Linked DNA regions of Homo sapiens: regions 1 and 3 are each linked to region 2. Evidence: fine-mapped expression QTL. A gene starts in region 2. Each other region holds a variant in brackets. All regions are shown on one strand. Distances are between the middles of the regions.

Region 1 (2,843 bases), 54 kb before region 2:
GCTGGGAAGGAGTATGGGGTTCATTGGTGAGTCCATTCGTTGTTGTTTTAAGTGTTTTTTTTTAAACCCCACGGTTCAGCTACACCACTTACTCATGGGGTTGAGTTTCTTTTTCTTTCTTTTTTTTTTTTTTTAATTTTCTTTTTGTGGTTCAGTTTCTACAGAAGAAATGTCATATCCTCTTAATCATTGTTCTTAATCTTTCCTTTCTTACTTTAACCTTTCCCCTTATCTTTATCATTGTTCCTTTGTTCTTAGAAATGATTGCTAGCCCAGGAAAATTTTTTTTTTTTTTTTTGAGACTGAGTCTTGCTCTGTCACCAGGCTGGAGTGCAGTGGCGCGGTCTCAGCTCACTGCAACCTCTGCCTCCCGGGTTCAAGCGATTCTCCTGCCTCAGCCTCCCAAGCAGCTGGGACTACAGGCGCATGCCACCACGCCTGGCTAATTTTTTGTATTTTTAGTAGAGACGGGGTTTCACCATGTTAGCCAGGATGGTCTCGATCTCCCAACCTCGTGATCTGCCCACCTCGGCCTCCCAAAGTGCTGGGATTACAGGCGTGAACCACCGTGCCCGGCCTATTTTTATTATTTATTTTATTTTATTTTTTCCCTTTAAAATTTTGTTTTAATTTAAAGGAAAATAGAATCAGATCCAGCAGCTCCCTTGTACAAAGTCCGCCTCATCTACCTATACAGTGGATTTGGACTAAACTTCCCACTGCTTTGTGTCTACTTTTTTTGTGTGTTAGAAAGATTTCCCTTCCTTAGCCTCTTCCTCTCACCAGGCTTATGAAGCTCTAATAAAAAAGATGTGTTTGCTTCATTTTAGGACACTATCTTGATCAGAAGAGGCTGAAGCAGGGGCTGTATCGTCATCCGTGGGATGATATTTCATATGTTCTTCCGGAACACATGAGCATGTAACAGAGCCAGGAACCCTACTGCAGTAAACTGAAGACAAGATCTCTTCCCCCAAGAAAAAGTGTACAGACAGCTGGCAGTGGAGCCTGCTTTATTTAGCAGGGGCCTGGAATGTAAACAGCCACTGGGGTACAGGCACCGAAGACCAACATCCACAGGCTAACACCCCTTCAGTCCACACAAAGAAGCTTCATATTTTTTTTATAAGCATAGAAATAAAAACCAAGCCAATATTTGTGACTTTGCTCTGCTACCTGCTGTATTTATTATATGGAAGCATCTAAGTACTGTCAGGATGGGGTCTTCCTCATTGTAGGGCGTTAGGATGTTGCTTTCTTTTTCCATTAGTTAAACATTTTTTTCTCCTTTGGAGGAAGGGAATGAAACATTTATGGCCTCAAGATACTATACATTTAAAGCACCCCAATGTCTCTCTTTTTTTTTTTTT[A/TA]CTTCCCTTTCTTCTTCCTTATATAACATGAAGAACATTGTATTAATCTGATTTTTAAAGATCTTTTTGTATGTTACGTGTTAAGGGCTTGTTTGGTATCCCACTGAAATGTTCTGTGTTGCAGACCAGAGTCTGTTTATGTCAGGGGGATGGGGCCATTGCATCCTTAGCCATTGTCACAAAATATGTGGAGTAGTAACTTAATATGTAAAGTTGTAACATACATACATTTAAAATGGAAATGCAGAAAGCTGTGAAATGTCTTGTGTCTTATGTTCTCTGTATTTATGCAGCTGATTTGTCTGTCTGTAACTGAAGTGTGGGTCCAAGGACTCCTAACTACTTTGCATCTGTAATCCACAAAGATTCTGGGCAGCTGCCACCTCAGTCTCTTCTCTGTATTATCATAGTCTGGTTTAAATAAACTATATAGTAACAATGAAGGCATACTGCTGGCTCCTGGCATCCATATCCTTTGATCTGTATTCCTTTGTAACTGTACTTTTTTCCAGACAGGGTATCACTCTGTCGCCCCAGGGCTGGAGTACAGTGGCACCATCACAGCTCACTGCAGCCTCCATCTCCTGGGCTCAAGCAGTCCTCCCACTCCAGCCTCCCAAGTAGCTGGGACTACAGGAGCATGCCACCACTCCAGGCTAACTTTTGTATTTTTTGTGGAGATAAGGTTCTGCTGTATTTCCCAGGCTCTTCTGGAACTCATGGACTCAAGCAATCCATCCTCCTTGGCCTCCCAAAGTGCTGTTACAGGCGTGAGCCACTGTGCCTGGCCTGGCCTGAACTGTACTAATAGTTTCAGTATATATGGTTTTAAAAATGCTCATCTACGGTCAGGCGTGGTGGCTCATGCCTGTAATCCCAGCACTTTGGGAGGCTGAGGCGGGTGGATCACGAGGTCAGCAGATCGAGACCATCCTGGCTAACACGGTGAAACCCCGTCTCTATTAAAAATACAAAAACTTAGCCAGGCATGGTGGCGGGCGCCTGTAGTCCCAGCTACTCCGGAGGCTGAGGCAGGAGAATGGCGTGAACCCGGGAGGCGGAGGTTGCAGTGAGCCGAGACCCGCGCCACTGCACTCCAGCCTGGGCGACAGAGCGAGACTCCGTCTCAAAAAAAAAAAAAAAAAAAAAATTAGCCTGGAGTGGTGGCGGGCGCCTGTAGTCCCAGCTACTCGGGAGGCTGAGGCACAAGAATCGCTTGAACCCGGGCGGCGGAGGTTGCAATAAGCGAAGAGCGCGCCACTGCACTCCAGCCTGGGCGACAGAGCGAGACTCCGTCTCAAAAAAAAAAAAAAAAAAAAAATTAGCCTGGAGTGGTGGCGGGCGCCTGTAGTCCCAGCTACTCGGGAGGCTGAGGCACAAGAATCGCTTGAACCCGGGCAGCGGAGGTTGCAATAAGCGAAGAGCGCGCCACTGCACTCCAGCCTGGGCGACAGAGCGAGACTCCGTCTCAAA
Region 2 (2,843 bases):
ATCCCAACCCCTGCCTCACTCCTAGCAGTCAAGGGCTCAGGGCTGCACTTCTGGCTACTACCCTATATCTGAATTTGCCCACCAAGCAGACAGGTTTTAAGTCTGGACTGTTTCCTTCTCAGTGTTGTTATGAAGGCTTAAGCTCTGCATTAAGTTTCTACAAGTTCCACAGCATCAGGTCATATGGTTTTCCTCAGGGTCAATGTTAATGTGTGCTGAACTGGCTGGAGGACTGCCAGGCCCTGTGAGAAGCCTACGTTCATTCATCCATGTCCTTGGAGTCCTAACATCAGCCTTAGCAAGTAGGTCCTGTTTTTGTCTCCACTTTTCAGATAAGGAAAGTGATGCCTAAAGAGACAAAATTCTCTGTCCATGGTCATAGCCTGGATTTGAACCAGGGTCTTGGGACTCTTGGAGTTTGTAGGCTTACCCCAATATATGCCTGCCTCTAAAGTCATGGCCACTAATTTCCTGTGGGCTGAGTTGTGTGTTTCAGAGGAGGGTCTAAGAAACACTGACTTCTTTCAGTGTGCTGTGGGGTCTGTGTGTAACTGGGACCCTAGATTTACCCCTGAGGCTGGCATACAGCCCTGCCCTGTCCCCGCTAACAAAAGTGGACTTGCTGGGGCAGACCAAAGGCCTGGGTCAGACCAGGAGGCCACCTTACAAACCCCAAGGCTGGCAAAAATGGGCGGCCTGTGCCTCTGGCCTGGTGTACCTAAAATGGAGAGAGATGAGGGTTCCAGGAGAACCAGAGAGGGAGGAATGAAATTCCTCCAAGGAGCCCAGGGTGGCATGTCCGACTGTGTGACACGTAGACAGGGCCTCCGCAGGGAGCCACGCGCTACCCCCAGGTCCAGCCGGCTGTCTTCTTATAATACCCACCAGCCTTTTTCCCTGCCCACCAGCCGCTGAAAACTCCCACCCCCTCCAAAAAAAAGTTCTATTCCCTCTTCTCTGACCACAAAGGCACTGAAAACAGTGGAACCAGAAGGGGAGTCAGGGTGGGTGGAAAGGTACGGGGTCCAGGCTGATAGACCATCCCAGGGTTCTTAAGCAGCAGGGACCACCCCCTTCCCCCCAACACTGTAGATCAGAACACCCCTCTCCATCAGGTCATTACATACAGCCCTGGTAACTACACAAGGCAGTTCACCTTGATTATCGAGTCCTTTCCGGGATGTGGAGAGCTTGTGAGAAAGAAATGGGATCCTTTGAGAAGTGAGGGTTTGGAAGTGGGGGCAGGAGGGTATCTTTGGGGAGATGGGTGTCTGGGAGGCCCCAGGGGTGCTGTCTAGGGTTAGAGTATTGGGATGCAGAGCTTAAAAGAGGCAACAAGGAAACAGGACCCCGGGTTCAGGGGACGGAGTGGTGAATCCGGGGGCGCCCAACCGGGGTTACCTTGAATCAAACTTCTTGCCATCTTCAAAAGTGCCGTTGTAGTGGTAGCGCACAAAATCCCCCATCTGCACTTCCCGGGGACAGGCCCTGGGGATGTGGTACCTCTCGATGACCACATCTTCCAGGGGGCCCCCGGCCGGGCTGGCGCGGCCCAGCCCCCTCCCCACGGCCTGCACCACCAGTAGCAGCAACTGCAGCAGGGGGAGCCGGAGGAGGCTGTGGCTGGGGGGGCCCGCGGGGAACATGGTGCCTGGAGTTGGGACCGCCGGCAGTGAGGGCGAGCGAGGGAGTCGCCACCAACCTCCTTCCCCCCGCCTCCCAGAACTGGCTCCCCCTCTTCCTGTCCTCTTTCCCTACCCCCGCCCTGGCTGGTCCACGTGGAATGGGGGCTGGGAAGACTGAGCTGGCCTGGCCGGGAGGAGCGGGGGAGGGGGTTGCAATAGGAGGAGGGGGCCAGGCTGAGTGTGTTAGAGTCTGAGGGAGGCACTACAAAGAACTCTAGGTTCCCCCTCCCCCCATCTCCATCCCTGGCTGCGAGACCTGGGGCCTGGCCAGGGAGAGAGGCTCGGGAAAGATGAGAACTCTGAGTGGACACCAAAGGAAAAAAAAAAAAAAAAGTTCAATGACTTTTTCCGGAGCCCCCGGGTCCTAAAGCCGGGCGGAGATGAACCTTGCTTCTTTCGCGGGCACTTCGAATTCTAGTCCCCTCCAGGTGGGTGGTGAAGCCGCGGAGTGTGAGAGGCATCTCCGTGCTCATCCGTGACCCCAGCTGTACTCCAAGGGAAGGCATCTCCAGGGAAGAGCAGCTTGGTCCCGCAAAAGCTGGACTGAAAGAAGGACTTTGTGACTTGGGATGTGACGGGCACGGAGATGGAGTGGGGGGTGGTGGCAGCGCAAGGTGTGCAGGTGACAGCAGGTGTGTGCCTCCGACGTGGGCGGGGGAGACACTCGGAGGGTGCAGGAGGGCGCAGCGACGGAAGGCCCGGCTCCAGGGCTTCCTTCTCGTATGGGCAGCGCAGAGGAGGCGGCCCTCACTCAGTGTCCTGATCTCAGGCGGGGGCACTGTTTGCATGGGGAGGGGCTTCCTGGGCTTCCCATCTCTGGCGGGAAGCGCTCCCCGACGCATTCTCTACCTAGGGGACACCCCCAAGGCAGGAGCCCGGGCCGACGGAGAGGACTTAACGACACTATCGGACCCTCTGGGAAAAGAGGGGAGACGTCGTGACCCAGGCCCCGCCCCACCTTGCCGCCTCGTGCCCGGCGCTAAGACCCAGCGGGCGCGCCGCCCGCCCGGGGCCCGGCCCTGTCCCCTTCCGTCCGCGGGGCAGCCAGCTCAGCTCCGGAGAGCCGGCGGCGCGGCGGGCATGGCTCGGGTGGCGTGGGGGCTGCTGTGGTTGCTGCTGGGCAGCGCCGGGGCGCAGTACGAGAAGTACAGCTTCCGG
Region 3 (2,500 bases), 49 kb before region 2:
GTCAGGTAGGGGACACAGGTACAGAGGCTCTGAGGTGGAGCTTGTATGTTAGAGAACAGTGGGGAGCCAGTGTGGCTGTATCAAAGGGATGCAGGATGAGAGGAACAGGAGAAGCCCCAGGATGGTAATGGGCAGGGATCCAGATCCCGTAGGGCCTTGATGGCCTGTGGAAGGACATGAGCTTTTACTCTGATTGAAATGGGAAGGTTTGGGGCAGAGGAATGATGCAGTCTGATTTGATGAATAGTGCTGTGCTGAAAAAAGGATGTGGCGGCCAGGCGCGGTGGCCCACGCCTGTAATCTCAGCACTTTGAGAGGCCGAGGTGGGTGGATGCTTGAGGTCAGGAGTTCGAGACCAGCCTGGCCAACATTGTGAAACCCCTGTCTCTACTAAACGTACAAAAATTAGCCGGGCGTGGTGGTGTGCCTGTAATCCCAGCTGTTGGGGAGGCTGAGACACAAGAATCGCTTGAGCCTGGGAGGTGGGAGGCTGAGGTTGCAGTAAGCTGAGATTGCGCCGCTCTACTCCAGCCTGGCGGACAGAACAAGACTCTGTCTCAAAAAAAAAAAAAAAAAAGAACAAAGGATGTGGCATTGGGGAGGAGGGGGCACCAAGGGCAGACGCAGAGAGACTAGTGTAGGAGGTTGTGGCAGTGGTGGTGGAGGCTTCGATTGAGGAGGGAGAAGTAAAGGTGATGAGAACTGCTCTGGTTCCAGATATATTTTGAAAGTGGATGAGATGAATTTGCTGATGGATTTGACGTGGGGTATAAGGGAAAAGACTGCTACCTTTTTGACCCAAGCAATGGGAAGGATGGAATTATTAAGATGTGGAAGATTGCAGAAGAGCCTGTTTGGGAGTAAGATCAGGAGTTTTTGGATTTGGTTAAGGAGATCCCTGGGAAGTGCATGGGAGCTAGAGATACAGATTGGGGAAAATTACCGTATAAATGGTAACTAAAGCCTTGGGGCTGGATGGTATTACTTAAGGAGTATACATAGAAAAGGGGCAGCGGGGAGAGAGTAGGCAAGACTGAGCCCTGGGGTTCTCTAGAATGTAAAATAGCCGGCTGGGCGAAGTGGCTCACGCCTGTAATCTCAGCA[C/T]TTTGAGAGGCCGAGGCAGATGGATCACTTGACCAGCCTGGCCAACATGATGAAACCCCATCTCCACTAAAAATACAAAAATTAGGCCGGGCGCGGTGGCTCACGCCAGTAATCCTAGCACTTTGGGAGGCCGAGGTGGGCAGATCACGAGGTCAGGAGATCGAGACTATCCTAGCTAACATGATGAAACCCCGTCTCTACTAAAAATACAAAAAAAAAAAAAATTAGCCAGGCATGGTGGCGGGTGCCTGTAGTCCCAGGTACTCAGGAGGCTGAGGCAGGAGAATGGCGTGAACCCAGGAGGCAGAGGTTGCAGTGAGCTGAGGTCGTGCCACTGCACTCCAGCCTAGGCAACAGAGTGAGACTCCATCTCAAAAAAAAAAATAAATAAATACAAAAATACAAAAATTAGCAGGGCGTGGTGGCAGGTGCCTGTAATCCCAACTACTCAGGAGGCTGAGGCAGGAGAATTGCTTGAACCCGGGAGGTGGAGATTGCAGTGAGCTGAGATTACGCCACTGCACCCCAGCCTGGGCAACAGAGTGAGAGACTGGATCTCAAAAAAAAAAAAGAATCTTAAAGAGGAGACTGATCTCATGGAAACGTAGAAAAGAAGGATATCAAGGAGGGAGTAGCCAGTCGTGTCAACTCTGTCAACCCATTAGTGATGGTTGCAGGTCAGAGATGCCATTGACAAGAGCTGTTAAGCCTTGCTTTATAAAGAGGATCAGAAACGTGTAAATGTTTTGGGGGACAATCCCACCAAGGTAAAAGATACTAGAGCATGTCTGTGTGCTGCTGAAAATGATTCAGTAGAAGATGAGTAATTGGTGTTACAGGAGCAGGGGAATAATTGCAGGAGTAAAGTCCTTGCAACCAAGAAGGGAACTGTCGGGATGGAAGAGGGGTGATCCCTTTCCTCCCTCTCATAAAGGGGTCACAGCTGACATTCTTTTTTTTTTTTTTTTTTTTTTTTTGAGACAAGAGTCTCGCTCTGTTTCCCAGGCTGGAGTGCAATGTCGCAATCTCGGCTCACTGCAACCTCTGCCTGCCGGGTTCAAGCGATTTTCCTGCCTCAGCCTCCCAAGTAGCTGAGATTACAGGCATCTGCCAGCACGCTCGGCTAATTTTTGTATTTTTAGTAGAGATGGGGTTTCACTGTATCGGCCAGGCTGGTCTCGAACTCCTGACCCGCCTTGGCCTCCCAAAGTGCTGGGATTACAGGCGTGAGCCACCGCACCTGGCCACAGCTGACATTCTTATAATAAAAGACAGGTTATATAGGACAGAGAAAAGCATAGCAGATTATTACAGGCACATTTGTGCTCGAGAGTCATACAAAATATGAAAACTCTAAGGGTGACTGAAGTTTTTATACCATCCTGTGGTTATAGAA

Which allele goes with the higher level. Alleles are on the strand shown, and positions count from the first base shown. SD is a standard deviation of normalised expression in the study named. Not every link is listed here.
In carriers of allele A in region 1, the expression in lymphoblastoid cells of the gene that starts at base 1,677 in region 2 tends to be lower than with TA alone (moderate effect, 0.64 SD a copy in TwinsUK).

The links.
Region 1: its variant is fine-mapped to the expression of FKBP10 in lymphoblastoid cells (TwinsUK, PIP 0.95).
Region 3: its variant is fine-mapped to the expression of FKBP10 in whole blood (TOPMed, PIP above 0.99).

The regions. Positions count from the first base shown.
Region 1 is chr17:41,865,892-41,868,734 of GRCh38, reverse strand. ACLY (ATP citrate lyase) reads left to right here. Exons shown (of 29, transcript NM_001096.3): 28 at 1-26; 29 at 831-1,817. The coding sequence ends at 925. Among named protein-coding and RNA genes, the nearest start is that of KLHL11, 1.9 kb to the right of the region's middle. RefSeq lists enhancers at 2,127-2,627, 2,628-2,843. The variant A/TA (reference allele first, on the strand shown) is at 1,371.
Region 2 is chr17:41,811,838-41,814,680 of GRCh38, reverse strand. FKBP10 (FKBP prolyl isomerase 10) reads right to left here and starts at 1,677. Exons shown (of 10, transcript NM_021939.4): 1 at 1,402-1,677. The coding sequence starts at 1,646. P3H4 (prolyl 3-hydroxylase family member 4 (inactive)) reads left to right here and starts at 2,732. Exons shown (of 8, transcript NM_006455.3): 1 at 2,732-2,843. The coding sequence starts at 2,766. RefSeq lists an enhancer at 2,363-2,472 and a silencer at 2,613-2,843.
Region 3 is chr17:41,861,268-41,863,767 of GRCh38, reverse strand. All of the region lies in intron 1 of KLHL11 (kelch like family member 11), which reads left to right. Among named protein-coding and RNA genes, the nearest start is that of KLHL11, 2.9 kb to the left of the region's middle. RefSeq lists an enhancer at 1-414. The variant C/T (reference allele first, on the strand shown) is at 1,105.